Homo sapiens: one gene and its partners. The protein of the gene in region 3 binds, or shares a complex with, the protein of the main gene of each other region. Each region holds a gene or a part of one and is shown on either strand. Other genes may lie near its edges.

The links.
Region 1: the proteins of TNRC6C (region 3) and GIGYF1 are in contact, whole or in part, in a crystal structure (PDB 7RUQ), measured with the Homo sapiens proteins. Residues at the interface, in NP_001136112.2 of Homo sapiens: Arg1719, Pro1720, Pro1721, Pro1722, Gly1723, Leu1724, Thr1725; in NP_001362694.1 of Homo sapiens: Tyr479, Asp481, Pro482, Gln487, Phe490, Trp498, Tyr503, Phe504, Leu508.
Region 2: the proteins of TNRC6C (region 3) and PABPC1 are in contact, whole or in part, in a crystal structure (PDB 2X04), measured with the Homo sapiens proteins. Residues at the interface, in NP_001136112.2 of Homo sapiens: Pro1593, Pro1594, Glu1595, Phe1596, Pro1598, Gly1599, Val1600, Pro1601, Trp1602, Leu1605, Gln1606; in NP_001425211.1 of Homo sapiens: Pro555, Gln556, Lys559, Gln560, Gly563, Glu564, Phe567, Gly579, Lys580, Thr582, Gly583, Met584, Leu586, Glu587.

The regions. Positions count from the first base shown.
Region 1 is NC_000007.14:100,678,760-100,688,064, reverse strand, and holds the end of GIGYF1 (GRB10-interacting GYF protein 1), read left to right. Parts: coding exon 1-84; intron 85-181; coding exon 182-277; intron 278-448; coding exon 449-560; intron 561-658; coding exon 659-767; intron 768-1,018; coding exon 1,019-1,059; intron 1,060-1,245; coding exon 1,246-1,416; intron 1,417-1,631; coding exon 1,632-1,885; intron 1,886-1,985; coding exon 1,986-2,091; intron 2,092-2,583; coding exon 2,584-2,721; intron 2,722-2,918; coding exon 2,919-3,016; intron 3,017-3,170; coding exon 3,171-3,342; intron 3,343-3,448; coding exon 3,449-3,615; intron 3,616-3,724; exon of another isoform or gene 3,725-3,727; coding exon 3,728-3,828; intron 3,829-3,907; coding exon 3,908-4,045; intron 4,046-4,146; coding exon 4,147-4,247; intron 4,248-4,432; coding exon 4,433-4,515; intron 4,516-4,620; coding exon 4,621-4,761; intron 4,762-4,834; coding exon 4,835-5,053; intron 5,054-5,287; coding exon 5,288-5,475; intron 5,476-5,582; coding exon 5,583-5,743; and 9 more. Other genes in the region: GNB2 (guanine nucleotide-binding protein G(I)/G(S)/G(T) subunit beta-2), read right to left, coding at 9,264-9,305. UniProt on the Homo sapiens protein: May act cooperatively with GRB10 to regulate tyrosine kinase receptor signaling. May increase IGF1 receptor phosphorylation under IGF1 stimulation as well as phosphorylation of IRS1 and SHC1.
Region 2 is NC_000008.11:100,703,782-100,714,842, reverse strand, and holds part of PABPC1 (polyadenylate-binding protein 1), read left to right. Parts: intron 1-1,661; coding exon 1,662-1,756; intron 1,757-2,053; coding exon 2,054-2,191; intron 2,192-2,385; coding exon 2,386-2,481; intron 2,482-5,111; coding exon 5,112-5,384; intron 5,385-5,619; coding exon 5,620-5,710; intron 5,711-7,845; coding exon 7,846-7,956; intron 7,957-8,037; coding exon 8,038-8,192; intron 8,193-9,169; coding exon 9,170-9,254; intron 9,255-9,786; coding exon 9,787-9,917; intron 9,918-10,452; coding exon 10,453-10,545; 3' UTR 10,546-10,546; exon of another isoform or gene 10,547-11,061. UniProt on the Homo sapiens protein: Binds the poly(A) tail of mRNA, including that of its own transcript, and regulates processes of mRNA metabolism such as pre-mRNA splicing and mRNA stability.
Region 3 is NC_000017.11:78,099,257-78,110,317, forward strand, and holds the end of TNRC6C (trinucleotide repeat-containing gene 6C protein), read left to right. Parts: intron 1-3,217; coding exon 3,218-3,288; intron 3,289-4,157; coding exon 4,158-4,297; intron 4,298-5,228; coding exon 5,229-5,589; 3' UTR 5,590-9,566; downstream 9,567-11,061. UniProt on the Homo sapiens protein: Plays a role in RNA-mediated gene silencing by micro-RNAs (miRNAs). Required for miRNA-dependent translational repression of complementary mRNAs by argonaute family proteins.

The DNA of each region.
Region 1 (9,305 bases), on a different chromosome or scaffold from region 3:
TCCCCTGCCATGCCCAAATACAAGCTGGCTGACTACCGTTATGGGCGAGAGGAAATGCTGGCTCTCTACGTCAAGGAGAACAAGGTGGGTGCGTGGGCGAGGGGGGTTGGCGGTGGTGGCCTCTGCCTGTGGAGGGGATCTGGCAGCATGTGGTGTCTTGGCTGTCCCAACCCACTGCCAGGTCCCGGAAGAGCTGCAGGACAAGGAGTTCGCCGCGGTGCTGCAGGACGAGCCACTGCAGCCCCTGGCTCTGGAGCCGCTGACTGAGGAGGAACAGGTGGGACCGGGCCAGGAGCTGAGGCTGCGGGAGCCTGGGAGGGGAGGCCATGGGTTGGGTTAGGAGGAGAGGGGCCAGCGCTGAGGAGACAGGCGGGGAGGGTGCTGTGGGGTGGGGGTGGAGGTGGTTGGGTGCCTGGGTCCTCACTCCCGCCCCTGGCTCCCTCCTCAGAGAAACTTCTCCCTGTCAGTGAACAGCGTGGCTGTGCTGAGGCTGATGGGGAAAGGGGCTGGCCCCCCCCTGGCTGGCACCTCCCGAGGCAGGGGCAGCACGCGGAGCCGAGGTAGAGGGGTGATGGCGTGTCCTGGGGACGGGCAGATCTGGGCCCCTGACTTCGAGAACGTGCAGCAGGTTTCATTGTGCGTCTGGCCTCTTCTCTAGGCCGCGGCCGTGGTGACAGCTGCTTTTACCAAAGAAGCATCGAAGAAGGCGATGGGGCCTTTGGACGAAGCCCCCGGGAAATCCAGCGCAGCCAGAGCTGGGATGACAGGTGGGGCGGGGAGGGGGCATGGCGCAGAGCCGGGCAGGCCAGGGAGGGGAGGCCTGGGCCCTGTCGCTAGAGGGTAACAGAGGCCCACCAGATAAGCCCTGTCCGAGATCCCGGTGCTCCTGACCCCTGGTTTCGTTTGTCCCCTTCCTCCCTCCACTGCCTCAGGGCACAGTGGACAAGGCATGGGGCGGTTGCACAGGGTGGCAGGGGAGGCTGTACTGTTTCTGACCCACACGTTTCCCCTGCTGCAGAGGCGAGAGGCGGTTTGAGAAGTCAGCAAGGCGGGATGGAGGTACGAGGCTGCTGAGGGCGGCGGCCGGGGCGGCAGGGAGGACCAAGATGGGTGGCCCAGTCTGGGGGTGCTTATTTCGGAGGTGTTGGGGGCAGGAGGGCCTGGAGCTGGCCCCCCCAACGTTTCTTGAGGGTCCAGGCACCACGCTGCCTTTCTAATAACTGCCCCTGTCTTCCCGTCTCCCAGCACGATGTGGCTTTGAGGAGGGAGGGGCTGGCCCAAGGAAGGAGCACGCCCGCTCAGACAGCGAGAACTGGCGCTCCCTACGGGAGGAACAGGAGGAGGAGGAGGAGGGCAGCTGGAGGCTCGGAGCAGGGCCCCGGCGAGACGGCGACCGCTGGCGCTCCGCCAGCCCTGGTGAGATTGGGGCCTGGTAGCATTGGCGGGGGCAGTGGGGAGCAGGAACTGTAATGAGAGGGTGGGCTCCTGTAGCCACGGGGAGGGAGCAGAGGCTGGCTGGTGTGGGAGTGGCCGGGACAGCAGCCCTGGAGGTGCTCCGTGAGCTGCAGCAGAGGGGGCCGCTGGCTTCGCTTGGGTACCCACTCTTCTTCTCCCTGACTTTTCCTGTGCAGATGGTGGTCCCCGCTCTGCTGGCTGGCGGGAACATGGGGAACGGCGGCGCAAGTTTGAATTTGATTTGCGAGGGGATCGAGGAGGGTGTGGTGAAGAGGAGGGGCGGGGAGGGGGAGGCAGCTCTCACCTGCGGCGGTGCCGAGCGCCTGAAGGCTTTGAGGAGGACAAGGATGGGCTCCCAGAGTGGTGCCTGGACGATGAGGATGAAGAAATGGGCACCTTTGATGCCTCTGGGGCCTTCTTGCCTCTCAAGGTATCTGTGAGGAGGCGAGGGTGGGAACCTGCCCTTCCGGGGTCCTCTTCCTCCCCACCCACCCCAGCTGTTCTCTGCTCCCCACCCCGGCCCCATGCAGAAGGGCCCCAAGGAGCCCATTCCTGAGGAGCAGGAGCTGGACTTCCAAGGGTTGGAGGAGGAGGAGGAACCTTCCGAAGGGCTAGAGGAGGAAGGGCCTGAGGCAGGTGAGCCGCGGGGTGCCCAGCGGGCCTGGGGCTGGGCCGGGCAGGCACTGGTGTTCTTTGCCGGGCTGGGCATTGGCTGCCCACCTACCTGTAGAATCAGGCTACTTAGATCTGGAAGAAGAGTGCTGAGAGGTGGGGAGGAACCAGGGGGTAGCAGAGCCATGTCTTCAAGGCAGTGTACCAGATAGAAATCAGGCGTAATCAAAATGACCTTTGAAAGTCCCTTGAAGAAGCTGTAGAACCTGGAGTGACGTCTGCGGTGTTGTGTGGTGTTGTGCGATGTTGTGATATGTTCCTGCCGCGTCTGGCAGCGTGGAGGCGAGGGTCAGGGCACCGCATTCCCTCTGCCATTAGTTGAGTTGACCCAAGTGAAGTGGTGGACTCGGCCTAAGGGAGTGTGACCCGCGGTTCCAGCCACACTCAAGGGCTTGTGCTAACTCGCGTGGCAGGCCCAGCCCTTGGTTCTGAACTCTGGCCATCTCCCTCTTCTAGGTGGGAAAGAGCTGACCCCACTGCCTCCTCAGGAGGAGAAGTCCAGCTCCCCATCCCCACTGCCCACCCTGGGCCCACTCTGGGGGACAAACGGGGATGGGGACGAAACTGCAGAGAAAGAGCCCCCAGCGGCCGAAGGTAGGAAGGGAGGATGGCCTACCTCCCGGGTGCGCTGGGGCTGTGGGAGAAAGTGCTCCCCACTCGTGGGGGTGGGCACACAGGGCATTCACATTGAGGAGCCATGGCAAGAGCGTGGTGTTCTGGAGTGAGAGTAGGCGAAAGCTATCTTGTCTCCTCCCCGCCCTTCTTTCCACCTCCTATCTCATGCCTTCCAGATGATATTCGGGGGATCCAGCTGAGTCCCGGGGTGGGCTCCTCTGCTGGCCCACCCGGAGATCTGGAGGATGATGAAGGCTTGAAGCACCTGCAGCAGGTGTGGGGGCCTGAGAAAGCGGGAGGGACCCTTCCCACTTCTGACCTGACCTGCTTGGCCCCAGCCCCGGCCCCAGCTCAAGCTCCATCCCCATCCCCATCCTGATGTTGCTGAGATTGGCAGCTGAGCCTTTCTTCTTTTTCTGGGCATCCAGGAGGCGGAGAAGCTGGTGGCCTCCCTGCAGGACAGCTCCTTGGAGGAGGAGCAGTTCACGGCTGCCATGCAGACCCAGGGCCTGCGCCACTCTGCAGCCGCCACTGCCCTCCCGCTCAGCCATGGGGCTGCCCGGAAGTGGTTCTACAAGGACCCACAGGGCGAGATCCAAGGTACCTGTGTGGGATGGGAGGGCTGCTCAAGGCCGTTCTGGTTCAGGGTGTCTCTGGCATACCCTGTGACCCCAGTGGTTCTCCCGCTCCCTCGCTCCCTGTCCAGGCCCCTTCACGACACAGGAGATGGCAGAGTGGTTCCAGGCCGGCTACTTTTCCATGTCACTGCTGGTGAAGCGGGGCTGCGATGAGGGCTTCCAGCCGCTGGGCGAGGTGATCAAGATGTGGGGCCGCGTGCCCTTTGCCCCAGGGCCCTCACCTCCCCCACTGCTGGTGAGCCGCTTCTCCCCTGCATGGAGGGACAGGGTGTGAGGGGTGCCGGCAGGAGTCCAGCAGAGTCCCCTCCTCCCTGCTGGGGGCACTGGCCGAGCTCTCACCTGAGCAGGGAAACATGGACCAGGAGCGGCTGAAGAAGCAACAGGAGCTGGCCGCGGCGGCCTTGTACCAGCAGCTGCAGCACCAGCAGTTTCTCCAGCTGGTCAGCAGGTATGGGGGGCCTGGGGTGGGCTGGGAGAAGGCCCGGCGCTGGCTCTGTGGCCCACCATCTCCACTGTCCCATTTGCAGCCGCCAGCTCCCACAGTGCGCGCTCCGAGAAAAGGCAGCTCTGGGGGACCTGACACCGCCACCACCGCCGCCGCCACAGCAGCAGCAGCAGCAGCTCACGGCATTCCTGCAGCAGCTCCAGGCGCTCAAACCCCCCAGGTGCGTGGTGCGTGCGAGCCCTCAGGATACAGGGTGGGGGGGGGATGGGGGCAGACCAGAGATGGATTTGGGGTCCTAAGAATCCACAATTTGCTCCTCAGAGGCGGGGACCAGAACCTGCTCCCGACGATGAGCCGGTCCTTGTCGGTGCCAGATTCGGGCCGCCTCTGGGACGTACATACCTCAGCCTCATCACAGTCAGGTGTGTGGCCTGACTGGTCCCCACCCCCAAGGCAGTCTCCGGGTGAAATGGGGTCTGGGGTCTGCTCCCCACCCCCACACGCCCCTAGCTGCCATTCTGGCTGGGGAGCCCACTGCTGCGGCTGGACTAGATCAGTGGGCCCAAGTGCCCACCTGCAGCCGCCTCTGCCCCCCTGCCCCCTGCAGGTGGTGAGGCCAGTCTTTGGGACATACCAATTAACTCTTCGACTCAGGGTCCAATTCTAGAACAACTCCAGCTGCAACATAAAGTGAGTGGGCATCCTGGGGCTGAGGCCCTGGGAATGAAGGGTGGACCGAGGCAGGCCCCAGGCTGTCCCCTGCAGCTCTCCCCTCTGATGGGCCACTGGTCTCAGTTCCAGGAGCGCAGAGAAGTGGAGCTCAGGGCGAAGCGGGAGGAAGAGGAACGCAAGCGTCGAGAGGAGAAGCGCCGCCAGCAGCAGCAGGAGGAGCAGAAGCGGCGGCAGGAGGAGGAAGAGCTGTTTCGGCGCAAGCACGTGGGTGCTCCCAAGCCTCAGCTGGCTGGGTGGACAACCCTCGCCAGGTCCCCTCACCATGTCCCCCTCTTAGGTGCGGCAGCAGGAGCTATTGCTGAAGTTGCTACAGCAGCAGCAGGCGGTCCCTGTGCCCCCCGCACCCAGCTCCCCGCCCCCACTCTGGGCTGGCCTGGCCAAGCAGGGGCTGTCCATGAAGACGCTCCTGGAGTTGCAGCTGGAGGGCGAGCGGCAGCTGCACAAACAGCCCCCACCTCGGGAGCCAGCTCGGGCCCAGGCCCCCAACCACCGAGTGGTGAGCAGGCCGGGAACCTCCCGGGCTCCCCCTACAGTTTCCAGGGTGGCACAGGGAGGGGGATACTGAACCCAGACTTGTGCAGCCCCAGCCCCAGTCCCAGCCTCTCCTGTGATGGCAACAGCTCTTGTGGCCCTCACCTCACCTGTCTCCCTTTGCCACCTAAACAAGCCTCCCCATCCGCTTTTCTGGGGTGCCTTTGTTTGAGCCACTCTGATCTTCTGCCATCTGTAGCAGCTTGGGGGCCTGGGCACTGCCCCCCTGAACCAGTGGGTGTCTGAGGCTGGGCCACTGTGGGGCGGGCCAGACAAGAGTGGGGGCGGCAGCAGCGGCCTGGGGCTCTGGGAGGACACCCCCAAGAGCGGCGGGAGCCTGGTCCGTGGCCTCGGCCTGAAGAACAGCCGGAGCAGCCCATCTCTCAGGTGGGCGTGGCACCTGGAGGCTCCGGGATGGCCCTGAGGGGGAAGGTGGCAGACCCCCCCAACCCCTGCCAGCTGATTTCCAACCCTGACTCACCCTCCCCCTTCAGTGACTCATACAGCCACCTATCGGGTCGGCCCATTCGCAAAAAGACGGAGGAAGAAGAGAAGCTGCTGAAGCTGCTGCAGGGCATTCCCAGGCCCCAGGACGGCTTCACCCAGTGGTGCGAGCAGATGCTGCACACGCTGAGCGCCACGGGCAGCCTGGACGGTGGGCGAGCGGCTCCCAGGAGGTGGGCGGGACCTGGGTCTCCAGACCCGGCCAGGGGGCCCTGACAGCCTTCGCTCATCCTGCAGTGCCCATGGCTGTAGCGATCCTCAAGGAGGTGGAATCCCCCTATGATGTCCACGATTATATCCGTTCCTGCCTGGGGGACACGCTGGAAGCCAAAGAATTTGCCAAACAATTCCTGGAGCGGAGGGCCAAGCAGAAAGCCAGCCAGCAGCGGCAGCAGCAGCAGGTGAGGCAGCCGGCACCAGCAGCTGGGGTGGGCTTGCCTGGTGCCTCCTGACCTTCACCCTCCTCTCCGCTGCCTTAGGAGGCATGGCTGAGCAGCGCCTCGCTGCAGACGGCCTTCCAGGCCAACCACAGCACCAAACTCGGCCCCGGGGAGGGCAGCAAGGCCAAGAGGCGGGCACTGATGCTGCACTCAGACCCCAGCATCCTGGGTGAGCTGGGCTGGGGCAGGAGCGGGACTTCCTTGGCACAGGGCAGGAGGAGCCCAGGAGAGAGCTCAGACGCAGCTTCTCCCCGGCTTCAGGGTACTCCCTGCACGGATCTTCTGGTGAGATCGAGAGCGTGGATGACTACTGACCAGCCCGGACCCCCAGCCCCTGGGCTGTAGGCCAGGGCAGCCACAGCGGCGTGGACCGAGGGTCCCAGCCTGCAGGCTCCCCGCAGAGAGCACAGGAAGAGGCAGGGGCGGGGTCCCCAGCACTTGTTACAAACACACGATGCACCTTAACTCACCCACCACGAGGCACTTTACAGACTGGGGGAGGGGGTTTTTCTTTTTATTTTTTTTTTTAATTTTAAACGACTGAAGAAAACATTAGGAGAGGCAAAAATATTGTTAAAAACTAGACTCTAAACACCCCTTCCTGCTGTGAGGATAGTGGGTGTGACAATGGAAGGTCCACAGAGGTTTTTGTTTTTTGGTTTTTTTTTTTTTTTTAAGAAAAAAAGATGAAAAATGAAAAAAAAAATGGTTAGGAGGCTGAAAGAAAAAACACACTGTTATTTTGGGGCAGTGGGGACACAGGCCCCGTGGACCTGTCCTGCCTGGCCCCCAAGGCCATACTTACCCCCCAGAAGGCGGGCCATGGGGTAACTGGAAGCTGGGGGCCAGCAGTTTGCACAGGAGGCCTGTCTGAGCCCCACCCGCCAGACCTGTTGTGAGCAGCTCCTGTCACTGAGGCTGGCTGAGGTGTCCGGGGTGGGGCCAAAGTAGCCCCTTGGCTTCGCTGCTTTGGGGGACAGTTGCACAAATTGGACGAGTGGCCCCAGCTCTCTGGCTGCCATCTTGTGCTGGCCGAGTAGACGGGAGGGGCCAAGCCGTGCCAACCTCTCTGGCTGGCAGGGTGGGGCAGCAGGACTCTGGTTCTGGTGAGGGGCGTCTCCCACTGCTGCCATTTTGGGGGACACCCTGGGTTTGAACCTGAAAGCCCCAGCTCTCTGCCTTGCCACGTGAATGTATTCTTTGGGCCACAAGCCCCCGCCTCACCCCTGCCTGAGCTGCCTCACCCCTGTGAGCGGCGGGGGTGGATGATTGCTCCAGAGGCTGCAGAGAGAAGGCTGAGCTGTTTCTCCAGTGAAGGGGGCAGGAGGAGGGGCCTCAAAGGCAAGGAGTGGGTGGCTTTGGGCTTAGGGTTGCAGTAGAGGGGCTGCCGCCCGGGGCCCCAACCTGTAGCCAGCTCGTAAGATGTGGACCACCCAGCTCTGCACCTGACCCTTCCGCTGACCAAATGGGAGAGGAGCAGGTGGCCTTCCGGGTCTGATATGATGCGCTTTTTACCGTTGGGTAAGGTTGGGGTGAAGAGAAGTGTGCGGCTCCTGGGTCAGAGGAGGCTGCCCCTTCTATTGCTCACCCACTTCTTATTCCCGGTCCCCTACTTGGGTTCGTCTCCGCCCATTTTGGGTTTTGTAACAGTTTTGTCTTTTGGGTTTCTCATCCAGCTCCTCCCATTGACCTCATTGCTCAGAGTGCAGTATTAGGGCAAGGCTTCGCCACTGCCTCCCTCCATGAATGTATTTCTCCCTCCTGCCCTGGGGACATGGGGAGTGGCCCGTTTCTTTCCCCATCTAGTCCCAGAAAGATGGTGTTTGGTTTTCTGTTGTTGGATTTTTTTTTTTTTTTTTTTTTTTTTGCACCAAAGTGGCAACTAGGTCAGTGTTGGGGGATCAAGCTGGCCTCGGGGTGGGGGGCCCCCACCTGCCTCTCCCTGGTTCCCACAGTGTTAGCGTCCCTGAAAAGACAATATTCTCTCTAAAGCAATAAGGGGTGACGGGCCGGGGGGAGTGTTTGCTGCTGCTGGCCCCCAGCTCCCCTTCCCTCTTGCCAGGTGTGGGGGAGACTCCTGTTGTGACTGAATGTAACCCCCCCACCCCTGCCGCAGCCAATGCAGGGGAAGGGGGACACTCTTCCTGTCTCTTCTCCCCAGCTAAAGAGACTTTGGACTTAGGGGGCCCATGAGCCTGGAGAGGCCTTAACCCTGTGAGGAAGTATAGGGGGAGCCCTCTCCCACCCCCATCCCCTTCTGAGAGTGGTCAATGTTTACAAGCCCCTGAGCCCCCCTGCCCAGGGACTCAGACCCTGTTGCTGTCCTTCCCCGGCCCCGGTCTTCCTGGGCCCTCGCTGCTCCCCTGCCCTTCCTGGGGTTGGGGTGGGTGCAGGGGTCACCGTGTTCCCTGTCTGCCTTGTACCCACAGTCTCCCCGCCCCCTCTCCACCCTGTGTGACTTCCCTCTCTTTTACCTGCTCCTGTAAATACTCCCTTCTCCCAATAAAACTTGGTGTGTGTTCTCCCGTTCCGCCTCCACTGCTCGTTATCTGGGGAGAGCCATGGGGATGAGTGGCTCTGCACAGAGCTGGGAACTAGGAGCTCTGAGCAGTGCCCGCCTGGTCAGGCTGGCTCTGGTCAGCAGCCTGACGGGGGAAACCATGGTGAGGGCTGCTTATCCGAGAACCTCTGGACGGAAGGCTCTGGGCTGGGGCTTCAGCTTTGCTCTGAGGGAGAGTGGGGACCCCACCCCCAGCCCCAGCTGCCTGGCAGGCCCCATACCTTCCCCACCATCCACCCCCTCAGCAGCCCTCAGGCAACAAAGTCCAGAAACAAGGAGAACACAGCAAGGGCAGAGACCAGGTACAGAGTTGGAATTGGCTCCTTTATGGAAAAACTGAAAATATAATAAAAATTAAAATAAAACCAGTTTTAAAAAAGCCAGCCCCTGGGGTTTCCACCTCCTGCCTCCGGCCCTCCAGAGGGGTGAGGCCCCAACCCCAGGGCAGCAGAAGGATGAGGGCCTCCTGCTCCTCCTCTTCCCCCATTCCATCCCCTTCTTATCTCCACAGTGGGGGCCCCGGGAGGAACCAAACCTGGGTGGGAGGGCAGGGACCCAAGGCCCCGTGGCCCGGGGAAGGGGGCTGGGATTGCGCCAGCCCCGCAGCCCTGGCCTGTAGTGTGGGCATGGGCAGGGCCCCTCCTGGCCTGGGCCCAGTGGGGGTGGGGCCATTAGTTCCAGATCTTGAGGAAGGAGTCCCAGGAGCCCGTGGC
Region 2 (11,061 bases), on a different chromosome or scaffold from region 3:
TTCATGTGCAGATGATTTGCTTGACCCCACCCTTTGCATTTTGTGTTGAACTTAGAGGTGTCTTGCTTTTTTTAATATGTCAAATAATAAAGAATTAGGAAATCTAATACTTTTTTTTTTGACTCTTGCTCTGTCACCCGGGCTGGAGTGCAGTCACGTGATCTCGGCTCATTGTAGCCTCCGCCTCCCGGGTTCAAGCAGTTCTCCTATCTCTACCTTGAGTAGCTGGGATTACAGGTGTGCGCCACCATGCCCAGCTAATTTTTGTATTTTTATTAGAGACGGGGTTTCACCGTGATGGCCAGGCTGGTCTCCAACTCCTGACCTCAAGTGATCCAGCCACCTCGGCCTCCCAAAGTGCTGGGATTACAGGTGTGAGCCACTGTGCCTGGCCAGGAAATCTAATATCTTACTGCCATGCTAGCATGTCACATCAAGCCCTCCACTAGAGCAAAAAAGTACCATTTTGCACAAAGATAGATGATATAAAACATAGAAAGTGACATCATGTTTACATCTCAACCCCCAAATTTAGCTACTGCCTTTTATATATTTCAACTGTCATGCTTCTTAATGTCTTATAATTAGAAGCTGTTTGTAAAAGTTGATGTTAACTACCTACCGTATGAGTAATGCTGCATAAGTTGACCACAAATATGTGAATATGTCATATTTTCTTGACTTTGGCCTCAGGAGAGAGGCACATTCAGAAGAAAATCTGCCTTGGCCCATACATCTTCTAAATTTCTGTAATCAAATGTGATTTTTAACCTTTTCTGCCCCACTTGCCTGAGATACCACCCGCCTCAGTTACCTGTCTCTCCTACTTTAGAGGGAGTTAGGGGAAAACATGTCTTCAGAAATAAATGCTTCCTCTTCCAGGTAGTTCACCTGTGTCTTTAAAAAGAATTTTTTTTCCCTGTCTTTCAAATTCCTGTATTACCTATGTCTTACCAAAGAGTCCAACTATGTATTCCTTCCACTCCTGTTGAAAGTCGGGTAGGCCAAGGCTTAATAAATACTTGTTTCTTAATTGATACAAAGAAAATCAAATTGGTCTTAGCACAATAGCTCATGCCTGTAACCCTAGCGCTTGGGGAGGTCAAAGAGGGAAGATACTTGAAGCCACAAGTTTTAGACTAGCCCGGGCAACATAGCAAGACCCTATCTCTACAAAAAATAAATTAGCCAGGCATGGTGGTATGTGGGCCAGTAGTCCCAGATACTTGGTAAGTTGAGGCAGGAGGATCACTTGAGCCCAGGAGTTGAGTTAAAGTGAGCTTATTCATTGTGCTGCTACACTTCAGCCTGGGCAATGGAATGATATACTGTCTCTATAGAAAAGGGAAAAAATCAAATTATTGGGTAAAAAATGCAACTCTTTTGTGCTAGAGCTGAGAATAAAACTTTTTACAGCCGTTTAAAGTGTACCTCCTTAAATGGAAGGAGGAATCCTTCAGGGGAGGGAAGGTGTTTACCTTCTTAATAATAAAAGGTCTTTCAATGGAAAAGTATACCTACCTGGGGCATAGAAGGCTGGGAGGGAGGAGTCAAGTTACGGAGCTTTGAAATTTTTTTCATGGCTTTGTATGTTGAAATTTGAAATGTATAACGTGAATGTTGTATGGAATATCTTTGATTTATGTAAAAAAATTTTTTAGGGCCTGCCTTAAGTGTGAAAGTAATGACTGATGAAAGTGGAAAATCCAAAGGATTTGGATTTGTAAGCTTTGAAAGGCATGAAGATGCACAGAAAGTAAGTGGTCTGTATTCAGCAGGAAGAAGGGGGTACAAAGTTGAGTTGCTCTTGTGTTGAAGTCTATGTGCATACTAATAGCTATTTGACATGTTCTTATATTTTCAGTTATTTGCATTTTATGCATTAGGTTTGAGAGTATAAATTGGTAACCTATATTGTCCCAAAACCTTGAGATTTTGGGATGGGTTTGTCTTTAGCTTTTGTGACTTAACAAATTTGTCTTAACTGTTAAGGAAATGAACTGTAAGTTGAAAGTTTTGTGATTTTTTTTTTTTCTTTTTTTTTGGGGGGAAGGCTGTGGATGAGATGAACGGAAAGGAGCTCAATGGAAAACAAATTTATGTTGGTCGAGCTCAGAAAAAGGTGGAACGGCAGACGGAACTTAAGCGCAAATTTGAACAGATGAAACAAGATAGGATCACCAGATACCAGGTTCATTTTTAATTGAACAACCAAAATAAGACAGGGATGAGGAAACCTATTTTACGTTGATTTCAGTTACTTCCAGGTAGCTGGAGGGTTTGAGAGGGGAATAGGAGAAGAAATATGGGGTAAAATAATAGACCCGATGTACTTAGGTACCACCATGGTTTTCTTTTTCTATAGTTTTCTTTTCTTCTTTTTAGGGTGTTAATCTTTATGTGAAAAATCTTGATGATGGTATTGATGATGAACGTCTCCGGAAAGAGTTTTCTCCATTTGGTACAATCACTAGTGCAAAGGTAAGAAAACATATGGTTCATTTATTTGAGGTCTAGTAAAAATTCATACATGTAGATATATGTATATAAATTTTGTATTATTATAGCCACTAGAGAGGTGTTTGCTTCGTTACTTCTAAAACTTAAATTCACATTTGAACTGGTTGTCATAGCCTAATGGTTAACTTAAAAATGGCAAGCACTGAACTCTTTGCTAAGGAAGGCTGATATCCTCACATGATATGCACTATTCCAACAACTAGTCATTTTGCTAAAGCAAGCAATTTATTAGGGACTTATAATTGTTACTATAGTTCTGATCTGTTTATTCATTTCTACAATTCATTCTGGGTAGTCAAGCCCCAGTTCCCTCCCCTGCCCCCTAGCAGTAAGAATAGAGATCATATTTTCTTTTATTTGAAATCAGAGATTAAGAAACAAAGCAGTAGTATTCTAGTACAAATTCTGAAATCTTGATTTAAGAAGTTCTCTTCTAGATGTTTTTGTCTAGCATCCGTGGGCCAAGAGTCCCCCTATATGCAAGGTTTTGTGCATACATAATTTTGCTGGGGTTGGGGAAGAGTGCATAGAAAAAAATTACAACTCAACTGAACTGGAATGACGCTGTGGCTGATCTTTCTAGTCAGCTTTTCCTGGCAAGTCCGAGGAAGCTTCTGTGAGAGTGAGGAAATGTTAGGGGAAAGGTGGTTGAATACAAGTAAGATGGAAGTGCCATGGTTGTCTTGTGTTTCAGATTATGCTTTTTATGTAAGAGTATTGGAGTACGATAGAATTTATTCCTGAATGTTTTTGTCTTCAGTGTGTTCCCTGGATATTGTTTAAATTGAGTGTTGTGCATCAGCATATTTTGAATGTATGAAGCATGCATGTTTTTCTGTTTCTTGAGACAGGATCTCATTATGTTGCCCAGGTTGGAGTGCAGGGGCATGCCACAATCACAGCTCACTGCAGCCTCAGCCTTTCCTGGGCTTAAGCCAAGCTTGTCCAACCCGCTGCTTGCAGGCCACATGCGGCCCAAGAATGCTTTTAATGCAGTGCAACACAAATTCTTAAACTTATGAGGTGTTTTTTTTTTGTCTTTTTTAAAGACGAGTCTCACTCTCGCCTGGGCTGGAGTGCGGTGGTGCAATCTCAGCTCACTGCAGCCTCCGCCTCCCGGGTTCAAGCGATTCTCCTGCCTCAGCCTCCTGGGTAGCTGGGATTACAGGCATGTGCCACTACGCCCAGCTAATTTTTGGTATTTTTAGTAGAGATGGGGTTTCACCATGTTGGCCAAGCTGGTCTTCCAACTCCTGACCTCAGGTGACCTCCTAAAGTGTTGGGATTACAGGCGTGAGCCACCGTGCCTGGCTGGTTGTCTGTCTTTTTATTGATTAAGGGAACATTTGTTTTATTTTTTTGAGATGGAGTGAAGTGGTGTGATCTCAGTTCACTGCAACTTCCACCCCCTGGGTTCAAGCAGTTTTCCTGTCTCAGCTTCCCGAGTAGCTGGGATTATATGCACCTGCCACCATGCCCGGCTAATTTTTGTATTTTTAGTAAAGACGGGGTTTCGCCACGTTGGCCAGGCTGGTCTCGAACTCCTGACTTCAGGTGATCCACCCGCCTTGGCCTCCCAAAGTGCTAGGATTACAGGCGTGAGCCACCGCGCCCGGCCAAACATTTGTTTTATATTGGAAATATTTTCTTCGAATTTTCCACTTTATAGACCTCACTTTGTGTGTGTGTCATCTTAGAAAGGTTTTCTCTCTATTTCTACATTCTATGTTCAGATTCAGAATCTACCTGGCATTTAAGATTTTTCAATGTAATGTGAATTAAGAGTTCTACATTTTTTCATTTGTCCCAGTGTGTCATGTATTGAGTAGCCCAAAGTCCTTTTTCCCCAGTACTTTAAAATGTTAACTTTAGCACAGTGAATTCCCATAATTGCTTGGGTATATTTCTGGCCTCTGTTTTATTACCGTTTGTTCCTATGCCACTCGCATACTGTTAATGTAGTTTTATAGCATGCTTATATATATTGCTGGCCTAGCGAGTGGTTCTTTGCAAGTCTTCATTGCTCATTTAAAAGGTCTTTGCAATCAATTTTAGAAGAACCTTCCTCTTGAGTGTTCTTTATACCGTAATATTTATGGATCCTCTGCTCTTGAATGTAAAAACTTTTATTTTAAGATGTGGGTATTGTAAGATTCAACTACTTTTTTCTCAAAGGCATAGTGAAGCATCTTGTCAGCTTGAATTGTTAGAATAGTCAAAATTTAATTGGGAAATGCTTCCAGTGGTGCCCAAAAGTCAATTTAGTAGGCCTGGGATGTATTTATTTAGATAATTAAATTTCAATATTGAAAATCCAATCAAATTCAGTATCTAAAATCTTTAAAAGTTTCTGTGCAGCCTTCACTTCTGTCAGTTCTCTGACCTGGCTAGGGTAATGCATATGTGTAGTTTGCCCTTAATAATTGGGTATTAAGGAAAAATTGTGAACTCAATGGGTAAATACAAGATGATTAAGCATTAACAGGGTTTAGTTATTTGATTCAGTGATTTATAATTGTCTAAATTGTAACGCTCTTTTTTTGCTCCTCATTCTACCATTACGTTAACTTTTTTTTTCTTTTTTTTAATAGGTTATGATGGAGGGTGGTCGCAGCAAAGGGTTTGGTTTTGTATGTTTCTCCTCCCCAGAAGAAGCCACTAAAGCAGTTACAGAAATGAACGGTAGAATTGTGGCCACAAAGCCATTGTATGTAGCTTTAGCTCAGCGCAAAGAAGAGCGCCAGGCTCACCTCACTAACCAGTATATGCAGAGAATGGCAAGTGTACGAGCTGTTCCCAACCCTGTAATCAACCCCTACCAGCCAGCACCTCCTTCAGGTTACTTCATGGCAGCTATCCCACAGGTAGGTTTTAGAAGGCAACCAGAACCATGAAGGTTTTCGTATTTGGTCATTTCTAGTGTTTTTTGTGCCCCTCGCCCCGCAAATGTGAAACATTAAGAAAGGGGAATTATGATTGAGTAGGAAAAAATGCTTGAGTGTGAAGTCCTGGTAAATGTTTTGAAAAAGTACATATAATTTATTGCATTATTTGCTTTTTTCTTCAACTGATAAACTCATGTGCTTTTTTTCCCTGCAGACTCAGAACCGTGCTGCATACTATCCTCCTAGCCAAATTGCTCAACTAAGACCAAGTCCTCGCTGGACTGCTCAGGGTGCCAGACCTCATCGTAAGTCTTTTTTCTTTTAATTAAGGTTGGGGATTGAGTTAAAAATAACACATTGGGTAAATCAGCTCTTCTATGTCAATGTTAGGTTAACTATTGCATTTCACATAATTTGTGGTTATGGATGTTCATTTTTATAGCATTTAAAAGCAGTGCTAAGATAGTAATGTCTACAGTGGTTTGATTTCCCTTTATAAAAGTTTTGGGAATAGGTACAGCTCTTCATTTTTTATTTATTTATTTATTTATTTATTTTCGAGACAGAGTCTCGCTCTGTTGCCCCAGGCTCGAGTGCAGTGGCTCAGTTTCGGCTCACTGCAACCTCCACCTCCCAGGTTCAAGCGATTTCTCCCTGCCTCAGCCTCTGGAGTAGCTGGGATTACAGGTGCCCGCCACCACGCCCAGCTAACTTACGCATTATTAGTAGAGATGGGGTTTGACCACGTTGGCCAGGGTTGTCTTGAGCTCCTGATCTCAGGTCATCTGCCCACCTCAGCCTCCTAAAGTGTTGAGAGTACAGGCGTGAGCCATGGCACCCAGCCAATTTCATATTTTGTCAGGCCACAGTTTTAAAGGTCTCGTTCCATTTAATCATGTATGAGAATCAGAGTCGTGGTATTTTATGTCTTGTCCTGTGGAACAGTATGTTATATTCCAAGAGCACTTAGAGTTTATTTTTTTAGACAGAGTCTCACTCTTTCTTCTAGTCTGGAGTGCAGTGGCATGGTCTTGGCTTACTGCAGCTTTCACCTCCCGGGTTCAGGTGATCCTCCTGCCTCAGCCTCCCAAGTAGCTGGGACTACAGGCACACGCCACCACGCCCAGCTAATTTTTTAAATTTTTTGTAGAGACGGGATTTTGCCCTGTTGGCCAGGCTGGGAGCACTTAGAATTTTATCATGATTATGTTTCAGGTATATTTATAAGTGTGGGCGGCAAACCACCCAGGTGCCAAGGCAAGAGACCGAGGACACGAGCTGTTCCAATATAATAAAATATAAAATAAGAATAGTTATACCAGATATAGATCTTAGATATGATTATATATGAATATCATTAATCATTAGTTTGTAGCAATTACTCTTTATTCCAATATCATAATAATCCTCACTCTATAATCATAACCTAGGAAAAACCAGGCCATACAGAGATAGGAGCTGAGGGGACATAGTGAGAAGTGACCAGAAGACAAGAGTGCGAGCCTTCTGTTATGCCCAGACAGGGCCACCAAAGGGCTCCTTGGTCTAGTGGTAACGCCAGCGTCTGGGAAGACGCCCGTTGCCAGGCGGACCGAGGTCTAGCAGTAGCGTAAGTGTCAAAGGAAAACACCCACTATTTAGCAGACCGGGAAAGGGAGTCTGCTTTTCCCCTGGGGAGTTTAGAGAAGACTGCTCCTCCACCTCTTGTGGAGGGCCTGACATCAGTCAGGCTTGCCTGCAATTATCCAGAGGCCTAACCGTCTCCCTATGGTGCTGTGCTTCAGTGGTCACGCTCCTAGTCTGCCTTCATGTTCCATCCTGTACACCTGGCTCTGCCTTCTAGATAGCAGTAGTAAATTAGTGAAAGTACTAAAAGTCTCTAATATGCAGAAACAATGGCGTAAGCTGTCTTTCTCTCTGTCTCCTCTCCCTCTCTGCCTCGGCTGCCAGGCGGGGAAGGGCCCCCTCTCCAGTGGACACGTAACCCACGTGACCTTACCTATCATTGGAGATGACTCACACTCTTTACCCTGCCCCTTGTGTTTTGTTTCCAATAAATAACAGTGCAGCCAGACATTCAGGGCCACTACTGGTCTCCGCGTCTTGGTGGTAGTGGTCCCCCGTGCCCAGCTGTCTTTTTTTTTTAAATCTCTGTGTCTCGTGTCTTTATTTCTGCACTCTCTCGTCGCTGCATACAGGGAGAAGCCCACCGACCCTGTGGGGCTGGTCGCTACATATAAGTACTCGTCCTTGTATGAATTAATGTTTTTACTTATTGATGCTCTGAGTCTGGGAAAATGGCAAGTGTTAAGACTCAGCTTTAAAAAGTTTTGTCACTTTTTAGTCTTTTATGCAAACCTCAGATCGAAGAAGACAGCATAAACACTTTTCACTCAGTAAGTTTTCCCAGTTAATGTATATTCACATCTTTAAAATGCAGCATTCCAAAATATGCCCGGTGCTATCCGCCCAGCTGCTCCTAGACCACCATTTAGTACTATGAGACCAGCTTCTTCACAGGTTCCACGAGTCATGTCAACACAGCGTGTTGGTGAGTCTTAATCCTTCCTTTAAAAATTGATCACCAATTTGAAAGAGCAAGATAAAAATACAAAATGTTCTTATTTTTTAGCTAACACATCAACACAGACAATGGGTCCACGTCCTGCAGCTGCAGCCGCTGCAGCTACTCCTGCTGTCCGCACCGTTCCACAGTATAAATATGCTGCAGGAGTTCGCAATCCTCAGCAACATCTTAATGCACAGCCACAAGTTACAATGCAACAGGTATGGATTTAATGATTTCTTAATAAAAATCACATTTCTTGGGTGAAATCAAAGGTGTGAAGACAGCTGGGCACAGTGGCTCACACCTATAACCCCAGCACTTTGGGAGGTTGAGGCAGGCAGATTGCTTGAGACCAGGAGTTTGGGACCAGCCTGGGCAACATACAGGACCCTGTCTCCACAAAGAAAACTAGCTGGGTGTGGTGGCATAAGCCTGTAGTCCTAGCTGCTAGGAAGGCTGAGGCAGGAGGATTGCTCGAGCCCAGGAGTTTAAGGCTGCAGCAAGCTGTAATCCCTGCTGGGTGACAGCAAGACTCTGTCTCAAAAGAAAAAATGTGAAGACAGCTGCATGATAGATTCTTGAGAGCTTAGCCTATCTGGAACATTCTGCTAATATGATAGTATGTAAAATGTCTTACGCTTTTGGAATTGGACAAGCAGCGAGAAATTCACATCCTAAATCACCACGCCTGGTCTGAAACAACTATTACAAGTAGCTATGGGCCAGGCGTGGTGGCTCACACCTCTATGTAATCCCAGCACTTCAGGAGGCCAAGGCAGGTGGATCACTTGAGGTCAGGAGTTTGAGACCAGCCTGGTCAACAGGGTGAAACCCCAGCTCTAAAAATATAAAGATTAGCCAGGCTTGGTGGCACATGCCTGTAATCCCAGCTACTGGGGAGGCTGAGGCAGGAAAGTTGCTTGAATCCGGAGGCGGAGGTTGCAGCGAGCCAAGATTGTGCCGTTGCATTCCAGCCTGGGCGACAAAGTGAGACTCCATCTCAAAAAGAAAAAAAATGTATCTGTGATACATAGTATATAATAACTACTTTGGCTTCTTTCTAATTCGCTCACTCAACTTCTCCACCTCATGTTTCGATGGAAGTCTACCACTTCAGCAGATGTCCATTGATGACTATTTGTATTTGCCATCTTTTTCTGTGCTTTAAACTTAAGAGTTCTCATTTTCTGTCTAGCCTGCTGTTCATGTACAAGGTCAGGAACCTTTGACTGCTTCCATGTTGGCATCTGCCCCTCCTCAAGAGCAAAAGCAAATGTTGGGTGAGTACTTCTGTCCCACCTTGTCAGTTCAGAAAGACTAGAAAATATAGGAATCACTTAGGCACTAGGTCAATCAATTGACAGCTAGGGCAGTGGAATTGATCTGAATTGGCATGAATGATTATGATAGTACAGTTGGTCTGCCTAATTAAAACCACTGGAAAGCCAATAAGAAAATGTATTGTTAGTAATAAATAGGGTAGTAGGGCATTACTCACCATGGGCCCTCACTACATTTTTGAGAGAAGGAATTTGAAGCAAATGAGAAGAAAACTTGTGACTTTGCCTGAACACCGATTTAACAACCTAATGGTAACATTGCTTAATTGGCAAGCTGATAATATCAAGAGTTAATTGCCTTGTGGCAGATTTTATTCTGTCTTCCCATGAAGACATAATGAAATTGTGGATTATGGGTTATTATATACGTGAGACAGAAGTATGGTTCTTAAACCCCAGTTTAATGTGGTAATTCAATGCAGTTAAAAACTTTTTTTTATTGAAGGGAGTTTTTGAATGTTTCTGTTCCTAGGTGAACGGCTGTTTCCTCTTATTCAAGCCATGCACCCTACTCTTGCTGGTAAAATCACTGGCATGTTGTTGGAGATTGATAATTCAGAACTTCTTCATATGCTCGAGTCTCCAGAGTCACTCCGTTCTAAGGTGATTTAAATTTATTTACCAAGTTGCCTCTTACACAGTTATTACGTGGCTTTTTATGGGGACTTAATTGTACAGAACACTTACATCGTGTTATATATAAGCCATGTACAGTTGTAAAGTCTGCATAATAACCTGTGGCGCTATTTATCCCCATTTTATAGATAGGTAAACTGAAACAGGCTGAATAATTTGCCAAATGCTCACACAGCTCTTAAGTGGCAGAGCCTGGCTTCAAATCCCATCAGCTCCAACAGCCATACTCTCAACTGCTGCTGCTTTCTCTAGTGGAGAAAGAGAAATATTTTTCGAGTGTGGGGAGGACAAGGAAAGAGTAGTGCAGGGGAGCGATTCATAATTCTAGAATAGTGGTGTAATAGAACTCAAAATTGAATGGATATAGTTGTTTAGTGTAACAATTTATACTTTCATTTGAGGGAAGAAACTTATCTTTGTTGGGAATTGGTATGTTACCATTATGAAACTCTTTATTTCCATTCCTTTCCTGAACCAGTTTATCTGTTTTCCCCTTTTTTAGGTTGATGAAGCTGTAGCTGTACTACAAGCCCACCAAGCTAAAGAGGCTGCCCAGAAAGCAGTTAACAGTGCCACCGGTGTTCCAACTGTTTAAAGTGAGCTTTTCCCTCTGGTTTGTTGTTTTAAGCTTGTTTTCTTCATCTTTTATAAAGTTTGTTGAGCATATTTTGAAATGTACATAGCAAAAGATCATTTTACAGTTCATTTAAATGTATTGCTAATTTTTCAAGGAAAAGTGGAACTAACTATAGAGGAATTAAAGGAATTTTACCCGTTAACTGTTGGATTTTTAAAATCCCAGGACTTTCAGGTGGTGTTTTTTTTTTTTTTTTTTTTTGAGATGGAGTTTCGTTCTGTCGCCCAACCTGGAGTGCATTGACGCGATCTCGGCTCACTGCAACCTCCACCTCCCAGGTTCAAGCAATTCTCCTGCCTCGGCCTCCCGAGCAGCTGGGATTAACAGGCCCATGCCTGCCACCGTGCCCAGCTAATTTTTGTATTTTTACTAGACTTGGGGTTTTGCCATGTTGGCCAGGCTGGTCTGGAACTTCTGACCTCAAGTGATCCGCCCACCTCGGCCTCCCAAAGTCTTGAAATTACAGGCGTGAGC
Region 3 (11,061 bases):
ATGCTTGAGCCACTGCACTCCAGCCTGGGTGTAATAATAATAAATAACAAAATTTTTAAAATCAGCTACAGATAGTGTATTAGTCCATTTTCACACTGCTGATGAAGACATACCCGAGACTGGGCAATTTATAAAAGAATGAGATTTATTGGACTTACAGTTCCATGTGTCTGGGGAGGCCTCACAATCCTGGTAGAAGGTGAAAGGCATGTCTCACATGGCAGCAGACAAGAAGAGAGAGAGAGCTTGTGCAGGGAAACTCCCATTTTTAAAACCATCAGCTCTCATGAGACTTACTCACTATCACGAGAACAGCATGGAAAAGACCTGCCCCCATGATTCAGTTAACCTCCCACTGGGTTCCTTCACGAAACATGGGAATTGTGGGAGTTACAATTCAAGATGAGATTTGGGTGGGGACACAGCCAAACCATATCATTCTGCCCCTGACCCCTCCCAAATCTCATGTCCTCACATTTCAAAACCAATCATGCCTTCCCAGCAGTCCCCTAAAGTCTTAACTCATTTCAGCATTAACTCAGAAGTCCACAGTCCAAAGTCTCATCTGAGGTAAGGCAAGTCCCTTCCACCTACAAGCCTGTAAAATCAAAAGCAACTTAGTTACTTCCTAGATACAATGGGGGTACAGGCATTGGGTAAATACAGTCATTCCAAATGGGAGAAATTGGCCAAAACAGAGGGGCTCAGGCCCCATGCAAGACCAAAATCCAGCAGGGCAGTCAAATCTCAAAGCTCCAAAATGATCTTTGACTTCATATCTCGCATCTGGGTCATGCTTAGGCAAGAGGTTGGTTACCATGGTCTTGGGCAGCTCTGCAGGGTACAGCCTCCCTCTTGGCTGTCTTCACGGGCTGGTATTGTCTGCAGCTTTTCCAGGCACACGGTGCAAGCTGTCAGTGGATCTACCATTCTGGGGTCTAGAGGACGGTGACCTTCTTCTCATAGCTCTACTAGGTGGTGCCCCAGTAGGGACTTTGTGTGGGGGCTCCAACCCCACATTTCCCTTCCACACTGCCCTAGCAGAGGTTGTCCATGAGAGCCCTGCCCCACAGCAAAGTATTGTCTGAACATCCAGGCATTTCCGTATATCCTCTGAAATCTAGGTGGAGGTTCCCAAACCTCAGTTCTTCACTTCTGTGCACCCAGAGTCTCAACACCACGTGGAAGCTGCCAAGGCTTGGAGATTGCTCCCTCTGAAGCCATGGCCCAAACTGTACCTTGGCCCCTTTCAGTCACAACTGGAGCGGCTGGGACACAAGGCACCAAATTCCTAAACTGCACACAGCATGTGGACCCTGGGCCTGGCCCATGAAGCCATTTTTTCCTTGTAGGCCTCTGGGCCTGTGATGGGAGGGGCTTCTCTGAAGACCTCTGACATGCTCTAGAGACAGTCTCCATTTTCCCCATTGTCTTAGGGATTAACATGCAGCTCCTCGTTACTTAGGCAAATTTCTGCACCCAGCTTGAATTTTTCCTCAGAAAATGGGATTTCCTTTTTTTTTTTTTTTTTTTTTTGAGATGGAGTTTCACTCTTGTCACCCAGGCCGGAGTACAGTGGCGTGATCTCGGCTCACTGCAACCTCTGCCTCCCAGGTTCAAGTGATTCTCCTGTCTCAGCCTCCCGAGTAGCTGGGACTACAGGTGCCTGCCACCATGCCCAGCTAATTTTTGTATTTTTAGTAGAGATGGGGTTTCCCCATGTTGGCCAGGCTGGTCTCAAACTCCTGACCTCCCGTAATCCACCCATCTCAGCCTCCCAAAATGCTGGGATTACAGGCGTGAGCCACCGTGCCTGGCCAATTTTCTGAACTTTCATGTTCGACTTTCCTTATAAAACGGAATGCTTTTAGCAGCACCCAAGTCACCTCTTGAAGGCTTTGCTGCTTAGAAATTTCTTCTGCCAGATACCCTCAATCATCCCTCTCAAGTTGAAAGCTCCACAAATCTCTAGGGCAGGGGCAAAATGCCGCCAGTCTCTTTGCTAAAACAACAAGAGCCACCTTTGCCCCAGTTCCCAACAAGTTCCTCATTTCCATCTGAGACCGCTGCAGCCTGGACTTTATTGTCCATATCCTTATCAGCAATTTGTCAAAGCCATTTCACAAGTCTCTAGGAAGTTCCAAACTTTCCCACATTCTCCCGTCTATTTCTGAGCCTTGAGTTCCAACCTCTGCCTGTTACCCAGTTCCAAAGTTGCTTCCGTGCCAAGACCAGCTTGATCAGGGAGACCCTAACCCAGAGGCACTAGAGGAATTAAAGACACACACACAGAAATAGAGCGGTGTGAAGTGGGAAATCGGGGGTCTCACAGCCTTCAGAGCTGAGAGCCCTAAACAGAGATTTACCCACGTATTTATTAACAGCAAGTCAGTCATTAGCATTGTTTCCGTAGATACTAGATTAACTACAAGTATCCCTTATGGGAGATAAAGGGATGGGTTTGGCTAGTTATCTGCAACAGGAGCATATCCTTAAGGCACAGATCGCTCGTGCTACTGTTTGTGGTTTAAGAACGCCTTTAAGCAGTCTTCCGCCCTGGGTGGGCCTGGTGTTCCTTGCCCTCATTCCGGTACACCCACAACCTTCCAGCATGGGCGTCATGGCCATCATGAACATGTCACAGTGCTGCAGAGAGTTTTTTTTATGGCCAGTTTTGGGGCCAGTTTAATGGCCAGATTTTGGGGTGGGGGTGGGAATCACGGGAGTTACAATTCAAGATGAGATTTGGATGGGGACACAGCCAAACCGTATCAGATAGTTGGAAAGTAATGGTTTCTGCCTTTTAGCGGCAGCCTTCAGGGATTTGCTCTGTTGTATTAACCAGAAGAACCTGGGAGCACTGATTCCACACCGGGTCTGGGGACAGGCAGAGGTGGAGAGCAGAGCTTCCCTGGAGATTCTCGGGCCTCATCACCCCCGTCTCTCCTGGCACAGATGGGAAAACACAGGCCTCCCGGGCTGGTGGGAAGATCCAAAAAGTCAGAGTCACCACGGGGAAGTGGGAAGGGGGTCTGCAGGGACTGTGAGGTTTTGGTTTACCAAAGATAGCATGGGCCTCCCAGGCTGAGAAAGGCTTTCCTAAAGCACGCAGTGACGGCCTGTGCTGTCCCACACTTCAGCACAATAAGAAGTGGGGAGGGCCGCACTATCCACTGGCACGGGGCCTTGTCAACCAGGTTCTCCCCTCTTGTTGCAGGTTCTGCCTGGAGCACCGACACCTCAGGAAGAACCAGCAGCTGGCTCGTTCTTCGAAACCTCACTCCCCAGGTGCAATATGGTGCCCCTGCATCACTGAGCATGATCCAGGGAGGGTTCCCGCTTGGCCCCCAATGCAGATGAGGCTGTCTGGTGGGGCAGGATAGTTGGGGGTTCTTGGTCAGGGTCCATAAGTGACGCTGCATGGGAGGAGATGAGCAAGTGCCAGGATTGGCTCCAGCAGCGGCAGCAGATGGGGCCCAGGGGCCTCTTTTAACCATGTTCCTGGTGAATTGTTTGTTTCCCCACCAGAGGCTGGAAAAGTGTGCTCTGTAAATAGAATTGTTTATTTTACAACTAGCCATTCAAGAGTGGTTGGGCCTGGCTGGGCGCAGTAGCTCATGCCTGTAATCCCAGCACTTTGGGAGGCCGAGGCCAGGGATCACCTGAGCCCAAGAGTTGGAGACCAGCCTGGGCAACATAGCAAGACCCCATGTGTGTATTTTTATAACATTTTTTAAAAGAGTCGTTTGGCCACATCAGACTGTGGGGCTAGCCAGTCCCTTCCCGGGACCCAGGCCACACCCACCTGCACGTCTCCCAAGTCTGTTGTCAGCAGCTGGACCCAGGTGCCTTTTGCAAACCAGAGGCTCTGTGCGACGTGCTCTGGTGAAAGGAGAGCAGAATTCAAAATGGGGTTTTTCTCCTTCCTCTGATTAGCCTAACTTATAAAATGTAACTGAAGCATCCAAGTTTTTAGTTACACGTTTGGCCACAGAGATATAAAACGTTAATGTTGTAAAACCACATATTATTAGGCCTTTTAAAGAAAAACATTCCTAGTGTTTAGTGTATCCAATTTCATACGTTTTTTCTTTGGAAGGCTGTAGTGAAAGAAATCAGAAGAAAGCTCATTCATGTCCCTGTGCTTCCTCTATCAGATTGATGGTTCTACACTGCGGACATTGTGTTTGCAACATGGGCCTCTTATCACATTCCACCTGAATCTGACTCAAGGCAATGCTGTGGTCCGGTACAGCTCCAAGGAGGAGGCTGCCAAGGCCCAGAAGTCTCTGCACATGTATGTTTTCTCACAGCCACCTCAGCGCTCCAAGTAGCTCCCCATCCCCCAGAGCATTAGGTTAGGGGTGTTGCAGGGGTGTCCTGAGCCACCATAGCAGAATCCCACAGGCTGGCCACCCTCCCACTTCTGGAGGCTGGAAGTCTGATACCCAAGATGAAGGTGTGGGCAGGGCTGGTTTCTCCTGAGGCCTCTCTCCTTGGCTGTAGACAGCTGCCTTCTCCCTCTGTTCTTATATGGTCGTCTCTTTGTGCATGTCTGTGCCGTAATCTCTCCTTATAAGGACACCAGTCCTGTTGGACTAGGGCCTACCCATGTGACCTCATCTAACTAACTTAATTCCCGCCTTAAAGACCCCATCTCCAAACGTAGTCACATGGGGAGGTACTGGGTGTTAGGACTTCAACAAAGGAATTGGGGAAAGGCGACACAGGTCAGTTCCTCACAGGTATCTTGGGACTTACTGGTTTTTTTCTGCTGCTGAGTTGCTGTGTCTACTCCCTCCCTGTGACACATTCCTACACAGGGCCCAGCAGTGGTCCTCACAGCCAACCCTTCACCCTAGTGAAAGGTTGCTTTTGATAGAAGTACGAGTAGACCTGATCAGTAACATCACTTGAGACGTTGGAACCTAGAAATTAGTCATTCCTGTTTTTAGCCCAGGATGCAAATGACACTGACCCTAAACGAGCCCACATTTAATGATCTGTTCACGCACTTGAAGATGTACTCTGTGTACCAGTACGATGTTGCCACTAGAAGTCTGAACTGAGCAAAACATTCACAGTCTGGGTTTGGAAATAGCAGTGGCAAAACAGAAGCCACAGGATGGCTTCCATGTGGGGCCGTTCCCAATACAGAGAAAGCCAGTGCCACGAACTCAGCAGGACTTGGGGTGGCCCTGTTCACGTGCCCCATCTTGCTGTTGCAGGTGCGTCCTGGGAAACACTACCATCCTGGCCGAGTTCGCTGGTGAAGAAGAAGTGAATCGCTTCTTAGCCCAAGGCCAGGCGCTGCCACCCACTTCCAGCTGGCAGTCCAGCAGCGCGTCCAGCCAGCCGCGGCTCAGCGCAGCGGGCAGCTCCCATGGCCTGGTACGCAGCGACGCTGGCCACTGGAACGCCCCGTGCCTGGGTGGCAAGGGGAGCAGTGAGCTGCTGTGGGGCGGGGTGCCCCAGTACTCCAGCAGCCTGTGGGGCCCGCCCAGCGCCGACGACAGCAGGGTGATAGGCAGCCCCACGCCGCTAACCACCCTGCTGCCTGGGGACCTGCTCAGCGGGGAGTCCCTGTAGGCTCTGCCATCATCAGCACCAGGAGAGCCGACCCCTCCCGGGACCCCTCCCGGCTGGGCGGCCCCACAGACCCGCTGGAACCCAGCAGCGGCCGCCCTTTTGAGTACCTCTGTCCAGGACTGAAGACGAACCTTGGCCGCAGTCCTTGCGAACTGTTCGCAAAACAGTGCGGGCTGCGGTGGGTCAGCGTCACATGCTAATGACAGGATGTTCCTCGTAGCTTTTTATTTTGTGCGTCTTATGTTTGTATAGTGTGTTGTCATTTTGATTTTTTTTTTTTTTTTAAGTATAAAAGCTGCTTAGAATAGTTCTATCATGAAGGGCACTTTTCAGATTGTGGGCTGGAAAGGGTTATTTTATCTGTGGGGGAGGGAGGGAGACGTGAAGCCTATTTAAAATGAGCCTGTGACGATTATGCACATGACCAGAGGCGGCCGGTAATCAGGGCAGAGTCTGGTGTGGACCGCCGGGCGCAGAGCGGCTCCGCGGCGGGAGCTGAGCGGAAGGCGCGGGCTGCGATCTGCTCTCTGTTCCCCTGGATCCGCCTATGCACATTACCCTTGTTTCATTACTTTTTCATGTCATTTTTTTATCCCAAAAAATATTTTTTAAAAGTTAAAAAAAGACATATCAAACATGCAAATACTTGAATCCAGCAGGCCAATAGTGAAATGTGAACACTTTCTAATTCTACACTTCCAGGTTGACATCAGTACACAGAAACAGGCTCTAGGAAAAATTTCTAAGTTCATAGCCTACGTGTGTGTATGTGTGCGTGTTGAAACAGAAGTGTGTGTGTGTGTGCATGTGTGGCGCGTGCTCCTGCACGGCGTGCAGTTTTCTGTGTTTGTGTGTTTGAAAGCGTGTGAGGATTTAACTGTGGGTTTTCCCTTGTATTCAGTATACGCTTTTTTTTTGGCGCATTGGTCAAACGGTTGTTATTATTAGCTTCTAACTTTGCACTGAGTGTCCTCGCCCTTCCTTTAGCTAATCCTATACATTACAGAGAATTCCTAGGACAGGGCTGGCGACAATTCATGTGTAAATGTTTACTCAAGGACTCTGTGACTGCGTTTAAAAAGTACAGTGTATATCTCTGGAGAAATAACATGTATACCTACCTTTAGCAGCTTTTTATTGTGGACTAATGCAAGAAAATTATTACCAGAGTATTGCACCATTTTTCCATTTGGAATATAAAGTTAAAGAGAAAAAAAAAAAAAACTGTTGTTGAACTGTGGCCATAGATACTTGTAAAGAATGGATGGTTCCGTGGAAGGAACAGAAACAAGCACTTGGGCGTGGGTTGTGACTGCTTTTGGGGGAGCCTGGGGTTTGGGCTCCCACCTGTTTACAGACCTTTTTTTCTCCTTCAGACTTTAAAATTTTAAAAATTTAAAAAGGAATTAAAAAAAAAAAAAGACTTCCGTCGTAAAGAAACCTATTTTCAGAATGCAGATGCGTTCCTTCAGAGCTCTGGGACGGGACAGTGTTGTTCCCTCGGCCATCGTCGTGGACTCTGTCGATTGCTTTCGCCCCTTCGTCAAGGTGACAGGCGTTGTGGCCACTGTCTTGCACATGCCGGACGCGCTCTCAGGAAAGCCAGGGCTCCCGAGGGCAGCTCCACACCATTTCATGTATTTTTAAACCCAACTCCTAGCACTGAAGATGTTATTTAAAAAAAAAAAAAACAAAACAAAACAAAAAAATGAAAAAAAAGAAAAAGAGGAAAAAAAAACACAAAGAAGAAAAATACCTAATCTCTAATGTGTAGCAGTTACATATTTACCAAATAATGGACTCAAAAGAAATAGATGTTTGAAGAGTGCTTTATATATTAAAAATTGCTTTATGTTTTAAAAATGATCAATGTTTTGATTGTTTTGCAAGGAAGAAAGACAATGGAATAACATACCTTCAAGTATGTTTTAAAAAATATATATATGAACATTGTGCTCCCTGCCTGCTTGATCAGGAAACTTGTGCATTACATTTTTTTAATTAGCTTTTTAATGGTTTTATCAAAACAAAAAAAATACAAAAAAAAAAAAAAAAGTCCTGCAAGACTGCAGATCCACAAAAGCTGGTTTTATAGAGGATCATGAACTATGCACAAACTGGGTTCAAGACTTTTTTTCTCAAGTTTAGTAGGATATTTAGAAAAACCAACCTTCCTCAGAGTGACTGCATCTCATTGCCATTACATGCGTTCTATATATTCGATGGACATACACCTGCGTATGTATATCCAATATGTGTGCGTGTGAGCATGCGTGTGCGTATGTGCGTCCGACATACCACTTCCCGTGCTGCCGGCGAGCATTGAGTTGTAGAAAAACTGTTGTTTTAAAATTGGGGATGGAAGTCAAGAATATGTTTGTTTGTTTTTGGGTTTTGTTGGGTTTGAGGGGTTTTTTGTTTGTTTGTTTTTTGTTTTTTTTACCTTTTATTTTGAACTTAATATGTCTGTAACTCTGAGATTAAACAACAAGTTCGTGGCTCTTAATGTTTTCCTCATAGAATGTGACTGTTGAAGAACATGCATCGAAAGTTGCTTTCGAAAGTACAACGCTTTATTGAATCTTAATAAATTGCAATTTTTTTCTTGGCTGTTCAAAGTAATGTGTTTTTCATTTTTCAAAAGACACTATGGATGTCTACTTTGCACGCTGCGATTGGGAGAGCTGTCCCGCTGCATGCGTTCCCTCTGTAATTTCCTCAGAGCTCACATACGTACCTCTCTCACGAGTGAACTCAGATTTTCCATTGTTTTGCTTTATTCTATCATTTGCTTTGTGGTTTTGCTGTAAATATTGAAATCTTAATCATCATCGAGAGGCACAGCCAAGCTTTCCAGCTCTCCACCCCCGTGGCCCATCCAAGTCTGTTCATCTGGTAACTTCTGTTGTCTGGGACGGCAGCAAGAAGATGCCGGGGCTTGCCTGGAGTCCTGGCAGAGGAGTGCCACTCACTTTTGCCTAGGGTCCAGTTGGGGCTTAAAAAATATTTGGAGAGAAGAGTAATGAGGATTTTTTGTGTTTCCTAGACATTTTATGCATCTATTTTTGTAAAATCACCTTCGCTAACTTTCACCAAGCACTTTGAGCACAGTGGAACTTCAGAAGCACAACCAGCCTAACCCCAGAATCTCAGGTGGCACAGCTAGAAATTGAGTCCCTTCCTAGGACACTGGCCGTGGCCTTCAGGGTGACCAGTCAGTGCCACCGGGTTGGCATTGGTGTTACAGACAGGCCTCTGAAGACAAACCGAGCACCCCAGCGGCCCCTCAAACTAAGCAAGGATCTTTTTTCTGTCTGCGCTCCCTGGGGCAAGGTCAAAGGTGGACCCGCCCACTGTGGGTCAATTCCTTCGAAAAGATGGGACCCGCACCCCCGCCACAGGCTGGCCCCCCCCCACCCATGGGGAAGGTGGTGTGCTGCTGGCTCTGACCATACTCTTTTGGAAATTGAGAAGGAAAGCATTGAGTGGGACCTAATCCGGAGAAGAAATTAAAGACCAGAAAAAGAAGGAAGCTGGGAATGAAACTCAAAATGCACTTGAACCTGGAAGCGGCAACCCTCAGCTCTGCGCGGCCGAGCCTCAGCAAGAGTTCGTTTTGTGCCTGAGTTACTACTACAGGGGCAAACTGTACCCGTGCCTGTGCGCTGGGAGAACAAGGTCAGCGCCCAAGGGTGTGCAAAGGATGTGGCAGGCTTCATGGAGGAGGTGGCATTTGCCCTGGGCCTGGGAGACCAGGTTGGATTTTGACAGACTGGGAACTCGGGGGACAGGAGGGCAGCACAGTGTAAGCTAAAGCCCTGTGTAGGGACCCCACGCAAAGACCTCGTGGGCCTGGGTGTCCAGGGCACCATTTCCACCCATGGGTGAAAAAGAGGCTTGAGGAAGACAACAGGTTCTTCACCTGCATCTGTGGATATATATTTTTTTAAGTTTATTAAATTTTTTTTTAAATGGCAGTTTCAGACCTGCCCTTTGTGGTTTGTGTTTTTGTTTGTTAATACAGGGTCTCTGTCTCCCACGCTGGAGTGCAGTGATGTAATCTCGGCTCACTGCAACCTTGACCTCAAGGTTAAGCTCCAGCGATCTTCCGACCTCAGCCTCCCAAGTAGCTGGGACCACAGGCATGCATGCGCCACCCCACCCAGCTCATTTCATTTTTTATTTTTGTAGAGATAGGGTCTCACCATGTTGCCCAGGCTGATCTCGAACTGCTGGGAATACAGGCATGAGCCAGGTGCCCAGCCTTTGTTGTTGTTGTTGTTGCTGCTATTTTGGCAACATCACGGCAGAACGGTAAAGGCAGAAAGCACAGTGCCCAGCAGCTAGCAGTGTGGCGTGCCAAGAAGGCTGTTCCAATGGGGGAGAAGCCAGCAGACACAGAGGCATCATGGCGAGCCCCGACTGAGTGTTCAGTGAAGAGGGAAAACAGAGACAGTGGGGCATCCCGAGAAGATCCTCTGCAGGAGTGCGGTGTCTACGGATGGACCAAGAAAACCTACGCAGGATCCACGTGGAAACAAAGCTGCTTAGCTCTGCATATCAGTGCTTCTCGGCGGAGCTGTGGCTGATGGGCTCCTGGTGCAGGACTGGCCCCTGAACAGCACAAGTGTAGTATGCCTGGGCCCCAGGTCATCATGAAAACCAGAAGCAGACACTCAGGAGGCTGAGGCGGGAGGATCACCTGAGCCCAGGAGGTCGAGGCTGCAGTGAGCTGTGATCGTGCCACTGTGCTCCGGGATGGGCAACAGAAAGACCCCATCTCAAAAAAGCAGAAGCACATTTCCGAAGCCCCCCAAGCCCACGGGCGTGAGTGCATGCATGCGTTTGTGACAGCCTGGTGCTCGGATGGGCCCAGAGCAGGGGTTCTCAACCTTGGCCCATTAGAATTACCTGAAAATTTTTAAGATAATTCACATCCGGCCAGGCATGGTGGCTCATGCCTGTAATCCCAGCACTTTGGGAGTCCGAGGCGGGCGGATCACCTGAGGTCAGGAGTTCAAGACCAGCCTGAGCAACATGGAGAAACCCTGTCTCTACTAAAAATACAAAATTAGCTGGGCATGGTAGCACATGCCTGTAATCCCAGCTACTTGGGAAGCTGAGGCAGGAGAATGGCTTGAACCCAGTAGGCGGAGGTTGCGGTGAGCCAAGATCGTCCCGTTGCACTCCAGCCTGGGGAACAAGAGTGAAACTCCATTCCAAGAAAAAAAAAAAAAATTCACATCCAAAATTTTAAAGATAATTCAAATCCAAATCAACTCAATCAGAATCTCTCGGGGTGGGCCTCAGGCACCAGTGTTTTTTTGTTTGTTGGGACAGGGTCTTGCCATTGCCCGTGCTGGATTCAAAACACCTGGGCTCGGCAGGTGTTGTGGTTCATGTCTGTAATCCCAGCACTTTGGGAGGCCGAGGCGGGCAGATCACTTGAGGTCAGGAGATCTTGACCAGCCT